Linked DNA regions of Homo sapiens: regions 2, 3 and 4 are each linked to region 1. The links come from fine-mapping of genetic effects on plasma protein levels. A gene starts in region 1. Each other region holds a variant in brackets. All regions are shown on one strand. Distances are between the middles of the regions.

What was found. PIP is the posterior inclusion probability: the model's chance that the variant is causal. Protein levels are from antibody-based Olink assays in UK Biobank. Linkage for the fine-mapping came from a reference panel and not from the study's own genotypes, which makes the PIPs less certain.
Region 2: its variant is fine-mapped to the plasma level of the IL13RA1 protein (UK Biobank, PIP above 0.99).
Region 3: its variant is fine-mapped to the plasma level of the IL13RA1 protein (UK Biobank, PIP above 0.99).
Region 4: its variant is fine-mapped to the plasma level of the IL13RA1 protein (UK Biobank, PIP above 0.99). The variant lies in the coding sequence of IL13RA1. If it changes the protein, the assay may bind it differently, which can mimic a change of level.

Annotation. Positions count from the first base shown.
Region 1 is chrX:118,725,100-118,730,463 of GRCh38, forward strand. IL13RA1 (interleukin 13 receptor subunit alpha 1) reads left to right here and starts at 2,507. Exons shown (of 11, transcript NM_001560.3): 1 at 2,507-2,627. The coding sequence starts at 2,540. RefSeq lists a silencer at 2,116-2,545.
Region 2 is chrX:118,787,077-118,792,076 of GRCh38, forward strand. IL13RA1 (interleukin 13 receptor subunit alpha 1) reads left to right here. Exons shown (of 11, transcript NM_001560.3): 11 at 4,686-5,000. The coding sequence ends at 4,778. Among named protein-coding and RNA genes, the nearest start is that of ZCCHC12, 34 kb to the right of the region's middle. The variant A/G (reference allele first, on the strand shown) is at 3,058.
Region 3 is chrX:118,801,279-118,806,642 of GRCh38, forward strand. It overlaps a transcript of IL13RA1 not described here. Among named protein-coding and RNA genes, the nearest start is that of ZCCHC12, 20 kb to the right of the region's middle. The variant G/T (reference allele first, on the strand shown) is at 2,072.
Region 4 is chrX:118,771,281-118,776,280 of GRCh38, forward strand. IL13RA1 (interleukin 13 receptor subunit alpha 1) reads left to right here. Exons shown (of 11, transcript NM_001560.3): 9 at 2,599-2,695. It also overlaps the pseudogene TMEM30BP1. Among named protein-coding and RNA genes, the nearest start is that of IL13RA1, 46 kb to the left of the region's middle. The variant C/T (reference allele first, on the strand shown) is at 2,639.

The DNA of each region.
Region 1 (5,364 bases):
GGCAGTGGCCTGATTCAATCCAAGACGCTCTTCGAATCACACTACACGGAGATTACAAATACAAGTTTTATGTTGAAGAAACAGCATTCCTGACTCTTTCCACCCCCTTCCAAAAATTTGAAAAATCGTTGCATGATGTTCAGGGTCGGGAAGAAAGGAAAGTAACAATATAGTCTTAAGGCCAGCAGGCCGGAACTATCTTGGTGAAAAGAAATCAGGTCTCTCCCCTCTCCACACTGCCGTTTGTTTTTTTTCCTCACGATGTTCAGATTCTCAGGGCTTTTCTGGAAGCTCATGACAAGCTGCAATCCCTATTTTTCTAATCATTTGCTACCATTACTGTTTTATTAAGCGCTTGGTCAATCTATGCCAAGCAGTGCCCATGATGGCACTCAGCCAGTCCCCAGGGGCTCCTGTTCCAACTAAAGACTCCTTAAAAGGCAGATGACATAACCATTTTGGAAACGTTATTATAAACTTATTGTATAATGTTTATAGCAAATGTCAACAAGTGTATATGTCCGTGGTGGTGGAGGAAAGGCCTTGGGATACACAGTGGCTGACCTATTTGTGGGAGGGATTTAGAAATAATGATACTATCTCTCAGTTCTACAGGCCTTGATACTTTACAAACTGTTTTCATAAACATTATTTTGTTCGATAACACATGCAAGCCAGGATTTATTTTTTTTTTTTTTGAGAACGGGGTCTCACTCTGTTACAGACCCAGGCTGGTTTTGAACTCCTGGGCTCAGGTGATCCTTCCACCTCAGCCTCCAGAATAGCTGGGATTACAGGTGCATGCCACCATGCCTGGATTCTGGAATTTATTCTGAACCGTTAGCCAAAAGAATCAACATCCTGAGATTCAGCACAGGCAGGCCCTCCTCCTGGAAGCTTCCCTTGCTCCTTCCCTCCCAAAAGGTACCCTTTTTGTATCCCATAATTCCTTGTTCTTGCCCTTATCATTGCCCCTCAGACTGACTGCAGCTTTCTGTTAGCAGAGCTTGCTTTTGGTGAGTGTCTTCAACAGTTCCTGGAACAATTTCATAAATATTTATTGAGTTTGAGAGCCTTAATTCCAAGAGTGGAACCTTTGTTGTGAATAGGTTAAACAACCCTGTGCCCTTTGGGTGGGGTCTAGACTAGGTATATTATCAGCATTTTTATTGCTATACTTTTTGTAACTGTTTTCAGGTATATGCATTGGCTTAATTCGGCCAAAATACACCTCATTATGGGTCTCATCATCCACCTAGACATGATTCTTTTTTGGGAGAAGGTGATAGAATAATGTCCCCCTCCCATGATTCCATATCGTGATCCCCAACACCTGTGAATATGTTAACTTACATAGCAAAAATGACTTTTCAGTTATGATTAAATCAAGGATTTTGAGATGGGGAGATTATTATGAATTATCTGGTGGACCTAATCTAATCACAAGGGTATTTATAAGGGAAAAGGGGAAGTAAGAGGGTCAGAGTCAGATACGACAAGGGAAGCAGAGGTCTGAGTAGTTCCGCAACAAGCCAAGGAATGTGGGTAGCCTCTAGAAGCTGGAAAAGTCAAAGACACAGATTCTCCCCTAGAATATCCAGAAGGAATACATCTCTGCCCACACCTTGATTTAAGCTCAGTGTCACTTCTGACCTCCAGAACTGTAATAAAATAAAACTGTTAAATCACTAAATTTGTGGTCATTTTTGACAGCAGCAACAGGAAACGCCTAAGGACTCTTGTTTTCCTTCCTCCCAGCCTCACTGACCCTCATAGGCGCCCAAGTATCAATGTGTATTCTTCCGATTCACCTCCCATCCCTTTGAAAAATATGTAGAAAGTTTGTCGTGTGCTTTAAAAAATGCACGTATGGTATCCTCCCTCATGTTTGGAATGTTCCTTTTAAAATCAACATTATGTATTGCCAGCTTTCAAATATGCCCTTTGTCCTTTTCACAAAGCACAGTACTGCCAGTGTCCCCAACTCCACCCAGTGAAGTAGGGCTGGTATTACTAACCCTGGAGTCAGCGCTAGCAAACAAGGGCTCAGAGGTCAAGGGCTGGAAGCCAGGTCTCCAGACTCCCAGGCCAAGGCTCTTTTCCGCAGATGACTCTGTCCTGGTGTCCAGCAGGGCACAGCCCCTAGCACCTCCGAGGCCCCGCAAGTGTGCTGGCAGCGGCGACGCCGGCTCCGCCACGCGGAGGGAGGAGGCCCAGGCAGCGCCCGGAGTGGGCGGCGACGTGGTGGAAGAAGTTTTGTTCGGTCAGAGACCGGACGCGGGAGCTGCGGGTGGGCCAGGTGTCCAGCCTTGGGAGCCGTAGGAGCCGCCAGAGCCGCCAGAGCCGCCGGCGCCCCGCCCCGCCTCCTCCGGCCGCTCTCGCCGGCTCAGGTTACCTGAGGCCGGTGGGCGGGGCGGCCCTTCCCGTCTGCGCCGGCCCCCAGCCTCCAGGGCGGCGGAGCCGGGAAGTGGAAGAGGGAGCGAAGGAGGCGGGGACTGCCAAGGCTCCAGCCCGGCCGGGCTCCGAGGCGAGAGGCTGCATGGAGTGGCCGGCGCGGCTCTGCGGGCTGTGGGCGCTGCTGCTCTGCGCCGGCGGCGGGGGCGGGGGCGGGGGCGCCGCGCCTACGGGTGAGTGCGACCCTCGGGGCCCGAGGGGCGGCCGGAGGGCTGAGGGCGGTGAGGGTCACGGCTGAAAGGCCCCGGAGGTCAACGCCGGGCGGAGGGCCGAAGCTGGGGTGGGTGCTGGGGGCTGCCCTCGCGAGGCCCCGCGCTCGGCGGCTGCGGCTTCCCGCGCGGGATCTCTGGGGCCCGGTACTGGGGCCGGTTCGAGGTGGGACCCGGGAGCTGCGGGGTTTTCCCGAACTCCGGGTGCGGCGGAGGTGGCGGCAGCGAAGTAAGAGGGCTGCGACTTGTAGTGGGAAGAGCCCAGGAGGCTGGCGTCCAGGCGTGCGGGGGCGGGGGGCCCGAAACATGCCCACGGCGTCAGAGGGCCGTGGGTCAGCGCCCGGAATGTCGCCTGTGAGCCCGGGAGGAAATGAGGCGCCAGAGCCGGCGGGGACCACGACCGAAGTCCAGGCGAGCTGAGAACGCGCCGGGGCTCTTTGCCCGAGGCCGCGCCAATCCTCACTGTCTAAGGGTGGCTCTTGCGAGTGGAAGTTGAAGGGAACCTCTAAACATCTCAGTCCTTGTTGAAAAAGGACGTGACGCTCATGACCTCCTCTGGCGTCGAAGAAATCCTTTGGGAAATCCAGAATAGCATCCCGGCAGATGCTCCCCCCACCCCACTCTCTTTAATAAACCTTATATTTTAGGGTAATTGTAGATTTATGGAAAAGTTGCAAAGATACTTCAGAGAGTTGTGTATATCCCTCACCCTGTTTGGTAACTTCTAGTTAATCAACCTGGCAGTTGTGAAAAATTGGGAGTTAATGACTTCCTTAGGAGCAGCTCCTGGAAGGAATGGCCTTCTGGACGTTTTTGGTGACAATGAAAGCCCCAAACTGTATAGGTTTTATTATCACATTGACACAAACACTTATATATGCTTATTGCATTTTTACCAATGTGCTTTGAAATCCAAGTTGAAATGTTGATTAGGAAACCTTAATGCCCTCTATGGATTCAGTCAATAAAATACATGCTGCCAGGCAGTGTTTAGGGGCTGAGGATGCAGCAGTGAGCAAAACAGATGAGGTGCCTGCCCTCAGACATATCGGGGGGTGGGGGTAAAATATATGATATGTCTGAGGGTGTTAAGTAGAGAAAAACAGAGCAGGTGGGAAGGGGTTTGCCATTGTAAAAAGGGTGGATCGAGAAGAAAACAAATGTTGCTGAAAGGTGGCATTTGAGTAGAGACCTGAGGGAGACTTGAAGCTTGTCAGTCAATAATTATTCAGGTGTCTGCCTTATTTAGTACTGAGTCAGGCCCTCTAGGTTGACTTAGAACCTGAGAGTGTATAGCAAAATTCTTGCCCCAAAAGGGCCTCTAGTTTAGTTGGGTACACCTGATTTCCGTAATCATATGGGGACATTGCAGTCCAGAGAAGGGAAGGAACTTGTCTAAAGTTACCCGTCTCATTAGTCTCCTGATTTTCACAGTGCCACTCCAGCACCCTCCCTCCTACAGACTCACTCCCACACACACCTGAAACAACAGCTGGCCATCTAGAGAATACTGGCAACTCCCAACTTCATCAGTCCTGTCACAATGGTTTGTCGTTAGCTTGCTTATTTAGAAAACAAACTTCTTTCCCCATTAAAAGTATTGATAGAATTGCATTGAGGTATGGTGGGAAAAAATTAGATGTTTCCAGTGAGACTTGAGTTTTAGTGGTTCTGATATTTACCACCTGTGGGACTCTGGGCTGGTCATTTCCTCTCTTTTGTGCTGCAGTTAGTTTTCTCATCTGTGAAATGAGGAGGTTGAACTGCATAAATTCTAAGAGCTCCTCCAGCTCTAATCCTCAGAGTGTTTATAAAAGTGATTAGATTACTAGCTTAGTTTAACCTGTCCCACTCAATGGCCCACATTGTGGCATGTCTTAATTATAACTAGCATGTATATAGCATTTATGCCCAGCAGTTTTCTAGCTGCTTTACTTGTACTATTTCATTTAATCTTTACCAATAATATAACTTGTAGGTGCTGTTATTAGTCCCATTTTGTACACGAAAAAGTTGAGGCACAGTGCGACCAAGACCCTTGCCCAAATTCGCATACCTGGCAAAGTGGAAGAGCTAGGTTTCCAACCCTGGCAGCCTGATTCCAGAGGCCATGCCCTTAACCACTGTACTCATTGCTTCTGCCCAGCAGAAAAGACGAGAGTCCTTAGCTGGACACCTCCCAGGGTAGCAGGGCAGGACGGCTTGGGACCCACGAAAGTATGTGCAAGCCATTTGTTAAGAAGCTAATGATACTATATTAGGCCGGGTGCAGTGGCTCATGCCTGTAATCCCAGCACTTTAGGAGACTGAGGCAGATGGATCACTTGAGGCCAGGAGTTTGAGCCTGGCCAACATGGCAAAACCCCGTCTACTAAAAATACAAAAATTAGCCGAGTGTGGGATTACATGCCTGTAATCCCAGCTACTCAGGAAGCTGAGGCATGAGACTCATTTGATCCTGGGAGGCAGAGGTTGCAGTGAGGGAAGATCAGGCCACTGCACTTCAGCCTGGGCGACAGAGCAAGACTGTCTCAAAACAAAAAAAGAAGCGAATGATACTACATTGGAGACTGGCTTTATAGTGGCTGGGCTGTGTGGTCCAAACAACTAGTACTATAGGCATTCAAAAGAGAAAAAGCTGACGGTTGGTAGTGTTATGGAAGAGGTAAAACTTGAGCTAGATCTTCTGGATGACTGGGAT
Region 2 (5,000 bases), 62 kb after region 1:
CATCTTGTTTTGTTGTAGATTTCATCTTGTGTTGGTAGATTTTGGATTTACTTTCCTATTGGGGGAACCAGCCCCCAATATTTCAACGTAAGTTCTTTTCTATTTTCCCTAAGTGTCAGCCGGTCTGATAAATAAAGGGAAAGAGTACAAAAGAGAGAAATTTTAAAGCTGGATGTCTGGGGGAGACATCACATGTCAGCAGGTTCCATGATGCCCCCTAAGCCGTAAAACCAGCAAGTTTTTATTAGCAATTTTCAAAGGGGAGGGAGTGTACGAATAGGGTGTGGGTCACAGAGATCACATGCTTCAAGGGCAACAAAATATCACAAGGCAAATGGGCAGGGCAAGGTCACAAGGCCAGGGCGAAACTAGAATTTCGCCTGGTTCCTGGTCCTGCTGTGCATGCATTGTCATTGATAAACATCAGGAAACAGGGTTTGAGAGCAGACAACCATTCTGACTAAAATTTACTAGGCAGAAATTTCCTAATCCTAATAAGCCTGAGGGTGCTGCAGGAGACTAGGGCGTGTTTCATCTCTATCTATGACTGCATAAGGCAGACACTCCTAGAGCAGCCATTTTAGAGGCCTCCTCCTGGGAATGCATTCTTTTCCCAGGGCTGTTAATTGCTAATATTCCTTACTGGGGAAATAATTCAGTGATATTTCTCGTACCTGTTTTTGGCAATAAGAGAAATATGACTGTCCTGCCCGGCTCCAGGCAGTCAGACCTAATGGTTATCTCCCTTGTTCCCTGAACATTGCTGTTATCCTTTTCTTTTTTCAAGGTGCCCAGATTTCATATTGTTCAAACACACATGCTTTATGAACAATTTGTGCAGTTAATGCAATCATCACAGGGGCCTGAGGCGACATACATCCTCAGTTTATGAAGATGACGGGATTAAGAGATTAAAGTAAAGATAGGCATAGGAAGTTATAAGAGTATTGATTGGGGAAGTGATAAATGTCTATGAAATCTTCACAATTTATGTTCAGAGATTGCAGTAAAGAGAGGCGTAAGAAATTATAAAAGTATTAATTTGGAGAACTAATAAATGTCCATGAAATCTTCACAATTTATATTCTTCTGTCATGACTTCAGCAGGTCCCTCCGTTCGGGGTCCCTGACTTCACGCAACACTTTCCTATTTATATTTCCAACTTGTGTTTTTTTATGGTGATATTTGGGAATATTCAAAAACGATGCTGCTACCACCATCTTCTTCGCAGAATTTTTCTGCAAACTATAGACCAAGGGGCAAATTCTGCCTGCCACTTGTTTTTGTACAGTCTTTAACCTAAGAATGGTTTTTGTGCTTCTAAATAGTTGGGAAAAAAATGTAAGAATACTATTTCATGGCACATGAAATTAAGATTTCAGTGTCATACAGTTTCGTTGGCCAGGCCCATTCATTTATATATTGTCTGTGGCTGCTTTCATGCTACAACAGCAGAGTTGTTTTATAGGCACAGAGACTATATGGCCCCCGAAGCTGAAAATACTTCTTATCTAGCCATTTTCAGGAAAAGTTAGTCAACCCTGGTCCCCTATAATATAGTTTTTAGTGGCTAAATAATATTCCATTGTGTGCACATATTATAATGTACTTAACAAAATTCCTATTGGCATTTGGATGAATCCTAAATTTCATTGTATAGGCATCATTTCACAGCTAAGTATAAGCATATGTATTAATATTTTATTACTGTCTTAGGATAAATTGTTACAAGCCAAATTGCATGATCAAGGGGGAGGGTATATGTATTTTAAACTCTTTGACTGATACAGGCTGAGTATTCCTAATCTGAAAATCTAAAATCCGAAATGCTCCCAAATCTGAAACTTTCTAACATGACGTTCAAAGGAAATGTTCATTGCAACATTTGGAATTTCAGATTTTTGCGTTAGTGATGCTCAGCTGGTAAGTATATAGTGCAAATATTCCAAAAGCTGAAACACTTCTGGTCCCAAGCATTTTGCATAAGGGATATTCTACCTGTATTGACAAATTGTCATCCAGAAAGGTTGTACAAATTAAATTCCCATTAAGGAAACTGGCTAAATAAGTTATGGTGCATTCATGCAATGAAATATTATGTAGAGGTTAAAATGAGGTAGATCACTTTTACTGATGTATAAAAATATAACATACACTGTTAGGTGAAACACCCAGGTTACATATGGAGAGTATGATTCCTTTGTGTTAAGGAAACTGGGGCATTAAAATGCACAAACAAATTTTTTCATAAGAAGCATAGATTACAACTAAGTTGTGCCAGTTCATATACCTACCAGCAGTATGTTCGACTGGTTGTTTGACCATACTTTTGCCAATATGATATTACCTAATTTTAAAATTCTTGCCAAGTTAATAGATGAGAAAAGAGCGTCTTAATTTTACAGTCAGGTTTTGTACTTTTTCCCAAGTTTATTGGCTTGAATTAATTCTTTTGTGAAATTCTTGTTCCACGTCCATTTTTCCTTGTTGTATTCATCTTTTGGTGGTTTGTAAAGCTCTTTACGTATTAGATATTAACCCTCTGGCTTCTTATCCATGTTTTCCTTTGTATTGTATTTAGGGTGATTAATGATGTACAAAAGGTTTTTCCTTTTTTATGCAGTCAAATCTTCCTGTATTTTTAGGTGTAAAGAGCCCTTTCCACCTTAGATTTATATAGTTGTTCCTCTACATATTTTTCTAGTACTTATTTGATTTTTTTTAACATTGAGATCTTTAATCCATCAGGGATTTATTCATGTAGGCTATGAGGTAGGGTTTAGCATTGTTTTCAAATGCTTATATTACCCACTTGTCTTAGTGTCATTTATTAAATAAGCCATTTTTTCAAGGTTATATAATTTTTTCAAATTGTTTTTATTAGAAATCTATACATTTCACATGTTTTAAAATCAAGTTTGAGGTGTAATTTACAATAAAATTTACTCTTTTTTGAGTGTTCAGTTAGAAGAATGTTAGCAAATATATGCAATTTTGTAACCACTGCTCCATTAAAAATATAGAATATTTCCATCATCTCCTAAAAGTTATCTTGT[A/G]GTCCTTTGCAGTCAACCCCCTCTGTTAATCGCCTTGCAAACACTGATCAGTTTTCTGTCCCTAAAGTCTTACAAGATGTCCTATAAATGAAATCACACAGTACATAGCTTTTTGAGTTTGGCTTCTTTTACTCAGCATAATGTGTTTAAGAGACATCCACACTGTGGTGTGTGTCAGTAGTTCATTTCCTTTTATTGCTGAGCAGTATTCTATAATATGGTTGTAACCACAGTTTATTTAACCATTCACTTGTTCAAGGACATCAGAGTTGTATCTAGTTTTTAATCTATTATTAGTGAAAATGCTATAAACATTCATGTAGAAGTCTTTGTGTGACATGTTTTCATTTCTCTTGGGTAAATACCTGGGAGTGGGATTTCTGGGTCATGTGGTAAGTGTATGTGTTATTTTATAACCAAGTGTCAGACTGTTTTCCATAATGATTGCACTATCTTATTTTTACCAACAATACATAGAGATCTAGTTTCTCTGCGTTCTTATGAGCGCTTGGAATTGTCGGTATTTTTAATTTTAGCCATTCTAGTAGGTGTGTCAGGGTTATATAATTTGTTTAGAATAATTTGCATATTTTGAGCAGTGTTTCCCAACTCATCCCCTCATCTCTTAACTTGCCCAGTCCATCTTCAGTTGCACAACCTGAGGCAGCTCTTGTTTCTGTTTTTCTTCTTTCCATTTCTTTTCTAAGAACATCTGTGCAGAAAACGAGCTTAGACATAACCTAATGCAGGGTTTGGTAGACTTTTTTCTGTAAAGGGCCAGATAATAAATGATTTTGTTTTTGCAAGCCATTCAGTCTCTGTCACAACTCAACTCTGCCATTATAACATGAATGCAGGTGAAGGCAATATGAAACAAAGACCAGCATTCAGCCGGATTTGACCTGTGGACCATAGTTTGCTGACCCCTGGTTTAGTATAACAACTTTATTTTACAGATGAGAGGACCGAGCTCATGTTTCACCCTTTCCTCTGATTTACAAGTAAAAGTAAAAAAAAGGCAAGGACCAGGATATTGGCTTTTACCATAAGAGACATGCTTGAATTGGGTTCAAGATAAGTGTGCTTTATGTGTAATTTCCTGTTCTAGCAAATGATGTTAGATGAAGCTCTTAATATAGGGTCTTTCGGCAATTTCGATTGCAGTAAGACTTTAGGAACATCTTATGTTTTACCATTCATCTCAATGCTACTTGACTTTTTGAACCTATTATGTCTCTGGAGCAATGAGCATTAAGAAAATAAAGGTAATAAAGGTCTCAGCAAAACAGTTGGAGTAAGAACGGCATGACATCCTTTTATTCTTCTTAATAGATTTTATTTCCAGTGGTGGAAATGTCCAAATTTGTTTATTTCTGGAGATAGTCATTGTACATCATGTAACTATCTCATGATTCCCACCTCCATTTAATATTAATTCCTGATTGTTCTGTTTCATTAATCATTCAGATAGATAAAGATTCTTAGGTCAAAAAAAAAAAAAAAACAGGAAATCATACCCCTACGGTTCCATCCACACAAACCTAAAAATAAGCATTGGCACTAAGTACTCAGGGAAAGAACACTGTTTAGATATGTCATTGTGTATGTGTTTTTTTCCTCCCTTCTAGCACTGGAAGAAGTACGACATCTATGAGAAGCAAACCAAGGAGGAAACCGACTCTGTAGTGCTGATAGAAAACCTGAAGAAAGCCTCTCAGTGATGGAGATAATTTATTTTTACCTTCACTGTGACCTTGAGAAGATTCTTCCCATTCTCCATTTGTTATCTGGGAACTTATTAAATGGAAACTGAAACTACTGCACCATTTAAAAACAGGCAGCTCATAAGAGCCACAGGTCTTTATGTTGAGTCGCGCACCGAAAAACTAAAAATAATGGGCGCTTTGGAGAAGAGTGTGGAGTCATTCTCATTGAATTATAAA
Region 3 (5,364 bases), 76 kb after region 1:
TATCTGCAAGGTTTTCTCTTGGCCTCTTTTCTCTTGGTGTTTTAAATTTTAATGATATGCCTTATTGTGGATCTTCTTCCATTTACTGGGCTGGACTTTGTGAGCCCTTTCAATCTAAAATCTCATGCTTCATTTTTAAGACATTGCTTTCTATTATTTCTCACACAATAGCTTCCCTTGTGTTTTCTTTATCTCTAGGATTCCTATTAGTTGTACATTGGACATCCTGGACTGATTCTGTAATTTTCGTATCTTTTTTCTCCCATGTTCCCTTTATTTGTCTTTTGGTTCTGCTTTTTGGGAGATTTTCTTAACTTGATCTACCTGAGGCTCAGTCCTCATCTGTAAAATGCTGATAAAAGGACCTACCACCTAGCGTTGCTGTGAGGTGTCAGTGAAATAAAATGTAAAATGCTTAGCACAGTGAACTTTAATAAATGGTAGTTGTGGTTGCACATACTGTTATTCTGGAACCAATTTCTTGTCCCTCCTCATGTGAAAATGACAATCTTGGTTTACAATATCATACTATAATATTTGCCTTCATTGTAGTGAATTTGTAATGACATGGCATTTTCCAATTATACTGTTTTTAGAAAAAAATTCTATGGTATAAATCCAGTTAGCAACATTAATTCTTATTTATGCTTCTACAAACACTTAAAAGTATTTTTTTTCTTTTTTCTTTTCTTTTTTCCACTCTCCCCTCATCCCTGGGGTAGATGAGAACTGGAAAAATAATGCTGGGTATCCACTCCCTGACAGTGAAATAGGTAGTTTGGAGCCCCAATTAATTACTTTGTTAGGATGAGAGTGCAGATCAAACCTTTAACATGTGAGGGTTGCCGTACACTCTGCCTGCTATGCAGCCCCAAATAAGGCTGGCCAGTACCTAGGAGCACTGAGGAGGCTAATGGACAATTAACAAACATCGAGTCCAGAGGAGGCCTGGATTCTCTGTAAGCTTTGCAGCCAAAGGTGGCCCTGCCTGCCCACTTAGGGCCCCATGAAGACTAGAACTAGAATTACAGAAAAAGAATGTCTGCAAGTCAAGAACAATCTGGCTTTACTACTTTATTTTCATTCCTTCATCTGTTCAGTTGGGGGGCGATGTTAAAGCTATGTGACATGGGCACCAACCAGTCAGGTCAGATGCTGGCTATAATTACTTGGTAGGTTATGTATCAACCCTGGATTCAACAGATATTTATTGAGTGTCTACCATGTGCCAGCACTGTGCTAGCTAGGTACTGTATGATGCAGGGCAAGTTTCTTTCTTTCTCTGAGCTTCAGTTTGCTCACTTGTGAAAAAAAAGGAGTAAGTGATCTACAAGGGCTCCTTTAGGTCTAACATTCGCAATCAATAAAATAGTAACTTTTGATTGTTTTGGGAAAATAATGGAAACAGCTATAGAAAACAAGCAGCTGACCTAAGACTTGTAGATTTGAAAATGGGGGAAAAAACAGAAAATTATTCTGAGTTATTGTTTGACTTGAGATTTGGATTAAGAATCAGTTCTACATGTCTTATTTTCATGATGTTTCCAAAGGGAGACAAAGATAGCTCTAATCAAAGGGTGAGTTTGTTTTACAGCCTTGAACATTCAAGCTCCACCCCACTATCCCCCACCAACATGCATATACAAGACACCTTCCCCCTAAGGAGGCTACTACTTTCTTTTAGCATCCTCTCTCCAGCTGCTACACTTCAAACCCTTTCGTTCAGTGGTTGGCAATAGCTTGTCCACTCTGGCAAGAGTCCATGTTCCAAGCCTTTCTTAACTTCCTCTTTTCAGACTTGTCCTGCCTCATTTCCTGTTCCTTGTGGCCTCTGCCTCATAAGATGTTTGATCAATTCATCTTTGCTAATGTAGCCAAGGAGGGCTAAGAAGTTTGTGGGTTACCATTTCTGGATAAAATTCATATTACAAGGAGCCTCCCCAAACCATGCTACCACTTTTATGGTGGATTAAAAAAATATTATGGGAAAGTTCAAACATATATAGAAGTAAGGAGACTGTTACAGTGAATGGTCATATACCCATCAACTAGCTTCAACAATTATCAAAAT[G/T]GTCAATCTTATTTCATTTATACTGCCACCCATTTCCTACTTCCTACATGACGAATTATTTTTAAGCAAGTCCCAGACATCACATCATTTCATCTGTAAATACTTTAGTATATATCTCTACAAACTAAGGACCCTTTTTGTTTTAAAAAACTGCAATACCATTATCACACTTTAAAACTAAACAATAATTGCTTAATATTCTCAATTATCTAGTCAGTGTTTACATTTCCCCAATTGTCTCATAAGTCTTTTTTTCCTACAATTTGCTTGAATCAGGATCCAATAAGGCTCACGGTGATTTTTTAAATAATGATGCTTTGTAATATACAGGGGTGAGAATTTGGGAACAAATGATTGTTTGGCCTTTAAAATCGTACTACATTGGCATTTAGGAATGAATACAGCCCTGCTGCCACAAAGTAGCTCTTTTTCCCTTCCAGATTGCTTTGACTAAAAATTTGTTTAGCATCCCATTGGATTCTGGAAATTCTTCTTGTTTTCTCTTTTCCTTCCTTCCTTCCTTCCTTCCTTCCTTCCTTCCTTCCTTCCTTCCTTCCTTCCTTCCTTCCTTCCTCTCTCTCTTTTTTTTCTTTTTTCTTTCTTTCTTTCTTTCTTTTTTTTTTTTTGACAGAGTTTTGCTCTTGTTGCCCAGGCTGGAGTGCAATGGTGCGATCTCGGCTCGCTGCAACCTCTGCCTCCTGGGTTCAAGTGATTCTCCTGCCTCAACCTCTCAAGTAGCTGGGATTACAGGCGCCCGCCACCACGCCTGGCTAATTTTTGTATTTTTAGTAGAGACGGGGTTTCACCGCGTTAGCCAGGCTGGTCTCGAACTCCTGACCTCAAGTGATCCACTTGCATCAGCCTCCCAAAGTGCTGGGATTACAGGCGTCAGCCACAGTGCCCAACAAATTCTGGAAATTCTTTATAAGCGTAGTCAGACATCTGTGAAGGAAGTGAAAACTGAAGTTTGGCCTTGAAGCTTAGAAGTTCTCACACAACCAAGACATAGTCTTCCTTAAAACAGAAAAAAAACACAGCCATGCATACACACACACACACACACACACACACACACACACACACACAAATGCCAACTTCTAATATGTCTACGGAATGTTTTTGCAAATGGTAGTACAGAGCATATCTGTGTTGTGTAATTTTTTCCCACATGATAAGGACCAATATAAACAAATTGGAAATGTGATACTAAAAGAGAGTACTTCAGCATGGATTAATTAAGACCAATATGGGGCAATCCTTTTCTGATATTTTACAATGCACTGAAAATTTTAAAGCAAGGTGGAAAAATAGGCTTATGGGTCTGAATGTTAGGTTGAGAAAAATTATCTGTGGTCAAGTGTGTGCTTTGTAAATCTGCTGAGTTTACACTTGATCATGCAGTTTTCTATAAGTTGCTGGCTTGAATACCACTGGGAAATATACAGACCATGTGACTATGAAACCAACCCAATTGTCCCACAGAGCTGATGTTTCTGATCTCTTTGAATAAACATAGAAATTGATCCTTCCAGTCTTAAAACTTGAGAAAGTTACATTTGTCTTATCTGAATTCCTTTCTCAGGAAACAAACCATCAGGCCTCCCAGAAAGTATCCGGGATCTGAAAATCACCAAATCACCACATCCGGACAGTGAGAAGCCAGATCCCTCACCCTTCTTGATTGGCTGACAAACCAACTGCTTCCTGTTGACCAACTCCTCTTCCTTATCCCTCCCTAATTCCTGTTTTCCCACACATGGTTTCACTTCTTCCCTGCTATACAAACACCTAATTTTAGTTGGTCAGGGAGATGGAATTGAGACTGATCTCTTGTCTCCTTGGCTGCTGCACCTGATTAAAGCCTTCTTCCTTGGCAATACTCATTGTCTCAGTGTTTGCCTTTCTGTGCAGTGAGAAAACAGGACCTAGATGGAACTCCTGCTGTTTTGGTAACATTACTACAGACCTCTCAGAATGGCTAAAATAAAAATAATGACAACACCTCAATAATAGTAAGGATGCAAAGAAATCATATCACTCATATATTTCTTGTGGGTACATAAAATGGTACAGCTACTCTGAGAAAGAGTGGCAGTTTGTTTAAAAACGAAACATGCAACTATCACATGGTCCAGCAATTGTACTGTTGGGCCTCTATCCCAGAAAAATAAAAACATATGTTCACACAACAAACTTTACATAAATGTTTATAATGGTTTTATTCATAATTTACAAAAACTAGAAAAACTCAGATATCCTTCAATGGGTGGGTGAATGGTTGAACAATTTTTGGTACAGTCACATCATGGAATACTACTTAGCAATAAAAGTGAATGAATATCACCTCACGCTCATTAGAATGGCCACTATAAAAAAAAACCCATAAAATAGAAAGTGTTGGTGTGGATGTGGGGAAATGAGAATCCTTGTGTGCTATTTGTGGGATTGTGAAATGGTGCAACAGCCATGGAAAACAGAATGGTAGTTCTTCAAAAAGTTAGAAATAGATCTACCTAGGCTGGGTGCGGTGGCTTACGCCTGTAGTCCCAGCACGTTGGGAGGCCGAGGTGGGCAGATCAACTGAGGTTGGGAGTTCCAGACCAGCCTGACCAACATGGAGAAACCCCGTCTCTACTAAAAATACAAAAATTAGCCGGGCGTAGTGGTGGGCACCTGTAATCCCAGCTACTCGGGAGGCTGAGGCAGGAGAATTGCTTGAACCTGGGAGGCAGAGGTTGCGGTGAGCTGAGATCGTGCCATTGCACTCCAGCCTGGGCAACAAGAGTGAAACTCCGTCTCAAAAAAAAAAAAGAAAAAAAGAAAAAAAAAAGAAAAAAGAAAAAGAAATAGATCTACCATATGACTCAGCAATCCCACTTCTGGGTATTTATGCAAAAGCATTAAAAGCAGGGTCTTGGGATATTTGCACACCCATATTCATAGCAGCAGTATTGAAACATGGAGTCTGGGAGCAGCATTCCTATGATCAGTGTCTATGCTATTCCACTTTGTGCTTTTATTAATTCATTCAAGAAGGCTTTTGACGAATATAGATCGTGTACGAGATGCTGTAGTAGATTCAAAGAATAGAGCATGCTTTCTTTTCTTTTTTAAAAAATTGAGATGGTGTCTCACTATTTTGCCCAGGCTAGTCTCAAACTCCTGGGCTCAGGTGATCCTCTTGCCTGCCAAGTAGCTGGGACTACAGGTGCAGTGCATACTTTCTGTCCTATTATTGCTGATAGTCCAGTGCAGGAATGGCAAATTTGTTTCATTTTGTGGATCAGTTCTTC
Region 4 (5,000 bases), 46 kb after region 1:
ACAGTACAGTGGTTTTCTTTTCTTTGTGGGGAGGGTGGGTTGGGATGGAGAGTGAGACCCACAAATTATCTGCAGAGGCATGGAGGGGTGTGGGAGAACATATTTGTTAAATATGCAGATAGATGAGGAGGCACCAACCCCAGAGATTCTGACACAGTAATGCTGGGGTGAGATGCTTGAAACTGTGTTTTAACAAACTCCTCTGGAGATTCCTGTATTCTCTCAAATTTGGAAATCACTACCCTGAACCTGGTTGGGCCTGAAGCAGTCACCTGAGTCCAGTTTTTCAGATAGTAATTTGTTCCCAGGGACAGTGACACCATAATGTTGCAGGTTTGGTCTGGCACTCTGCCTTAAATATAGTATGCTCTAATGACTTGTGGAATGAATTTTTAAAAAATCACTATCTCTGGGCTGGGCGCCATGGCTCATGCCTATAATCCCATCACTTTGGGAGGCTGAGGCGGGTGGATCACTTGAGGTCAGGAGTACAAGACCACTCTGGCCAACATGGTGAAACCCTCTCTCTACTGAAATATAAAAATAAGCTGGGCATGGTGGCAGATGCCTGTAGTTCTAGCTCCCGGGAGGCTGAGGCAGGAGAATCGCTTGAACCCGGGAGGCGGAGGTTGCATTGAGTCGAGATCGTGCCACTGCACTCCAGCCTGGGTGACAGAGTGAGACTCTGTCTCAAAAAAATTAAATTAAAAAAAATCACTATCTCTGGAAAACTAGTTGGTGTACAGATTTGTAGGCCAGGGTTTGTGTCGATTTATTTGATATTTTAGTATAACAGCAAACAGGCAAACTTTACCAGATACTGTGTAGAAATTTGAAAATGTGAGGCCAGTTTGTACAGTTCAGAGGGAATGCTTTTTAACTGTAGAATCAGATAGCTGGAAGGGATCTTTGAGGGAAAGTAATTTCCCTAGTCACATCTATGTCTCCTGGCTCAGTCTTCTTTGTCATTTAATCTGTGTGTGTGGGTGTGTGCGTGCGCACACGTGCGTACTTACAAAGGGCTTCATTCATACCTTTTCTCTTGGATCTGGAAAAAATTTTTTTATGTTTTCCAATGAGATACATTTGTAGTAATCATATTTGAAACAATGCTAAGGTATATATAGTCTTATATGTAAACTAGAATCTTAACATTATTTGAATCTTGGAGATAATGTTAAAAGTCTTAGCTAAAATGATTCCATTGATTTTATCGATTGACTAACATCAATCAATATGTTTAAAGTTATTCTAAGAAGCAATATTTTTATTTAAAAAAACCTTTCTTTCATGGCAAAATAGCTTAAAAGAACTTTAAAAAAAAACCCTATGTGATATGTTCCAGTTTATTTGCTAAAAGCAAACAGTTATTTGGTATTTGTCAGACAGAATTCTTCAGTACCTGCTTTCTATTATAGCTATTTTCCAGTTACCACTCATTCGTTTATACTCCTTCCTTTAAAGCAGCACAAGATCTTGAAGTTTTTTTTTTATCAGTTAAGAAATATTGGATTGTATTGGATAGTATACATAGTTTAGTCTGTTAGTTCTCTGAAAGTTACTGAACAATGGACAATGTGCATGTCACTGACATCCGTCTCAGATCTTCTGGGACAACTATGATTTAAGAGATTCTATCTCATTATTACAGATACCAAAAAAATACTTGGGTAATTCCAGTGTGTTGGCTTTCCAACTCCTGAACACTACACAATTTTATTATCAGTTTTTGTATGGTGATTTTAGGCTATGAAAACATTATTTTATGTACATAGAGAAATTTTTATTATGAATGTTTGAGCTCACTAGCCCAGCCCTCCTCTATTTTGAAAAAGAGAGTTTACTACATTTTTTACTATGTAGTTGAAAACAACATGTATTTTGTCATTTTTAGAATGGTCAGTCTATTTCTATAAAATTTTAAATGTGGCTGGGCGCAGTGGCTCATGCCTGTAATCCCAGCAATTTGTGAGGCTGAGGCGGACAGAACACTTGAGGTCAAGAGTTTAAGACCAGCCTGGCCCAAATAGGGAAACCCCGTCTCTACTAAAAATACAAAAATTAACTCGGTGTGGTGGTGTGCGCCTGTAGTCCCAGCTACTCAGGAGGCTGAGGCAGGAGAATCTCTTGAAACATGGAGGCGGAGGTTGCAGTGAGCCAAGATCGTGCTATTGCACTCCAGCCTGGGTGACAGAGTGAGAGACTCTGTCTCAAAACAAACAAACAAACAAAAGTTTAAATGAGACCATCAAATTTAAGGGATTCTGATCCAGATTAAATTAATGAATATGGTTCCAGGTCCTAGTCTCTGAGTTTTTGAAAGAGAATAAAGCTTATGTTTGTCTTTTAAAAAATATCCTAATTTCAGGTAATCTTTTAGGTATTTGCTCGCCTAGGGAAGTTCAGGCACCAGAGGAGGACTTTTTTTTTTTAAACTATTAATTTAACAGAAGATAAGATAATTGAAGAGCTTGGGAAAATAGGTTGGGGGAGGGAGCAGAAATATTTGTGATCTTACTAGCTAACAGAATTGCTGCTTGGTTTATTACTAAAAGGGTTTTATTTCTCAAGTCTTTCTGTTTGCTTTTCATTCTCCAGGTAAGAAGCGCAATTCCACACTCTACATAACCATGTTACT[C/T]ATTGTTCCAGTCATCGTCGCAGGTGCAATCATAGTACTCCTGCTTTACCTAAAAAGGTAAGGTAGCTGCCCAGGCAGGTTTTGCAGTTTCTGATAGCCTGTTTGCTGTGGTTATTACTTTTAGTGCTTGTGTTTTATGTCTGCCCAGTGTATTAGAAGCATGTTGCCTGTAAGTGGCTTTCGGGAGTATGACATGACAAGGAAGTATTACCACGCCCACTTTCTTTTCTTTTCTTTTTTTTTTTTTTTTCCTGAGATGGAGTCTCTGTTGCCCAGGCTGGAGCGCAGTGGTGTGATCTCGGCTCACTGCAGCCTCCACCTCCTGGGTTCAAGCAATTCTCCTGCCTCAGCCTCCCGAGTAGCTGCGATTACAGGTGCCCACCACCACGCCCGGCTAATTTTTTGTATTTTTAGTAGACAGGGTTTCACCATGTTGGCCAGGCTCGTCTCAAACTCCTGACCTCAAGTGATCCACCCTCCTCAGCCTCCCAAAGTGCTGGGATTATAGGCATGAGCCACTGCACCCAGCCGCTATGCCCACTTTCTAATGAAAACCATGTTGGATTAGTTTTCCAGGGCTCCCTGCTCAAGCACTGCTGCCTTTGCATGTGTTTAGGATTGTTGAATAGGTCCTATGTTCACATAATACTCTTTCAAATGCCTAATCTATCAAGTTAGTCAGTAGTTCTTAGAATGAAGTTTTAGAAATGGAGACCTTTACTAATAAAATGACTTGTCTGGTATTAATGCAAAGTAGGCTACTACTTAATATTGTGGGAAAGAGAACTTCATCAAGTTGTCATGAATGTATGGTATCCATTCCTTGAGAATATTTTATTTTCTCTATCTCATTATAGGACTGTTATTTGCTCTTGTAGTAAATAACTAAGGTTGAAATAAGGTTATTAAGTTGGATCCAGAACCAATATTTTATCATTATTTCAACATTTATTCAACATATATATATACTCTCTCTATATATGTATATTTTTTGAGTGCCTATTTGTGAACCAGGTACTGTTCTAAGTGCTAAAGTTACAGCAGTGAACAGGACAAAGTCCTCATCTACATTCTAGAGGGAAAGATACACACATGCACATACACACACACACACAAAATAAATAATAAATACTATAATTTCACTTAGAAGTATAATTGACAGTAGTGGGGTATGGCTAGGAGGTGATAGGAGGTGCATTTTATGTAGGATGTCACCAAGAAAGTGACATTTGAGGAGAGACTCCCAGTAATGTAAAGGAGTGAATCATTCAGATATTCGAGGAAAGAGCACTCCAGGCCATGGGAACAGCAAATGCAAAGTCCCCAAGGCTGAAATGCACTTGGTTTGTTTGGCTGGAGTGGAGAGTGCAGGGTAGAGAGTGGCAGCGAGGGAGGACAGAGGTTGGCCAACCACATCACGCAGGCCATGGCAAGGAACTGAGATTTTATTCTAAGCATGATGAGGAGCATTGGAGAGTTTTGAGCAGAGTAGGCACATGGTCTGAGTTACTGTCATAAAGGATTATTGTAGTTGCTGAGTGAAGAACTGACTTGGGCAAAAGTGGAAGCCGATGGAGTAGTTCGGAGGCATTGCAGTGTTTTGGCAGAAAGATGAGGATAACCTATACTAGGGGGTTAGCAATGGAGATAGCAAGAAGTGGTCAGAAATAGTATATATTTTGAGAGTAGAATTGATAAGACTTGCTGTTAGTTGCCTGTCTGTGGAGGTGTGAAGGTAATTAAGGATTCAGAGATACCTCTTAGATTTTTGGCTTGAGCAACTGAGTGAATGCTGGTGCCATGTACTGAGACAGAGAAGGCTGTGAGGAGAGCTGGGTTTGAGGGAAAGATAAGGACTTCAGTTTTGCATATGTTAAGTTTGAGATGCTTATTAGATATCCAAATAAGGATGTTAAATAAGCGATTTTGTGCATGAATCTGGAGTTGAAGGGAGAGGTCTGGGCTGAAGATCTAATTTTGGGAATCCTCGGCATGTGAATGGATTTAAAGCCTAAAGACCGAAAGGAGTGCTCATAAAGTGAATGAGATAGACAAGAAGACAAAAAACTGAATCCTGGGGCACATCCATGGACACTCACTGGGAGATGGAGGCAAGCTATAAGATTGAAAAATGGAGAGAAGTAGGAAGGAAAAAGAAACAGAGGAATGTATCCTGTTCTCAGATTATTCTTTTCAAAATTATACAGAGCAAGCGCCCATCTGGTCTGTTAAAAGTAGAGTAGCATATTATTTAGATGATAGGGTATAAGTAATTCATTTATTCTGATGGTCCCTGTGCTCCACCTATGGGCAAGAGTAGAACTTAATGCCCTTAGAACATTGATTTTTGTGTACCCTATTT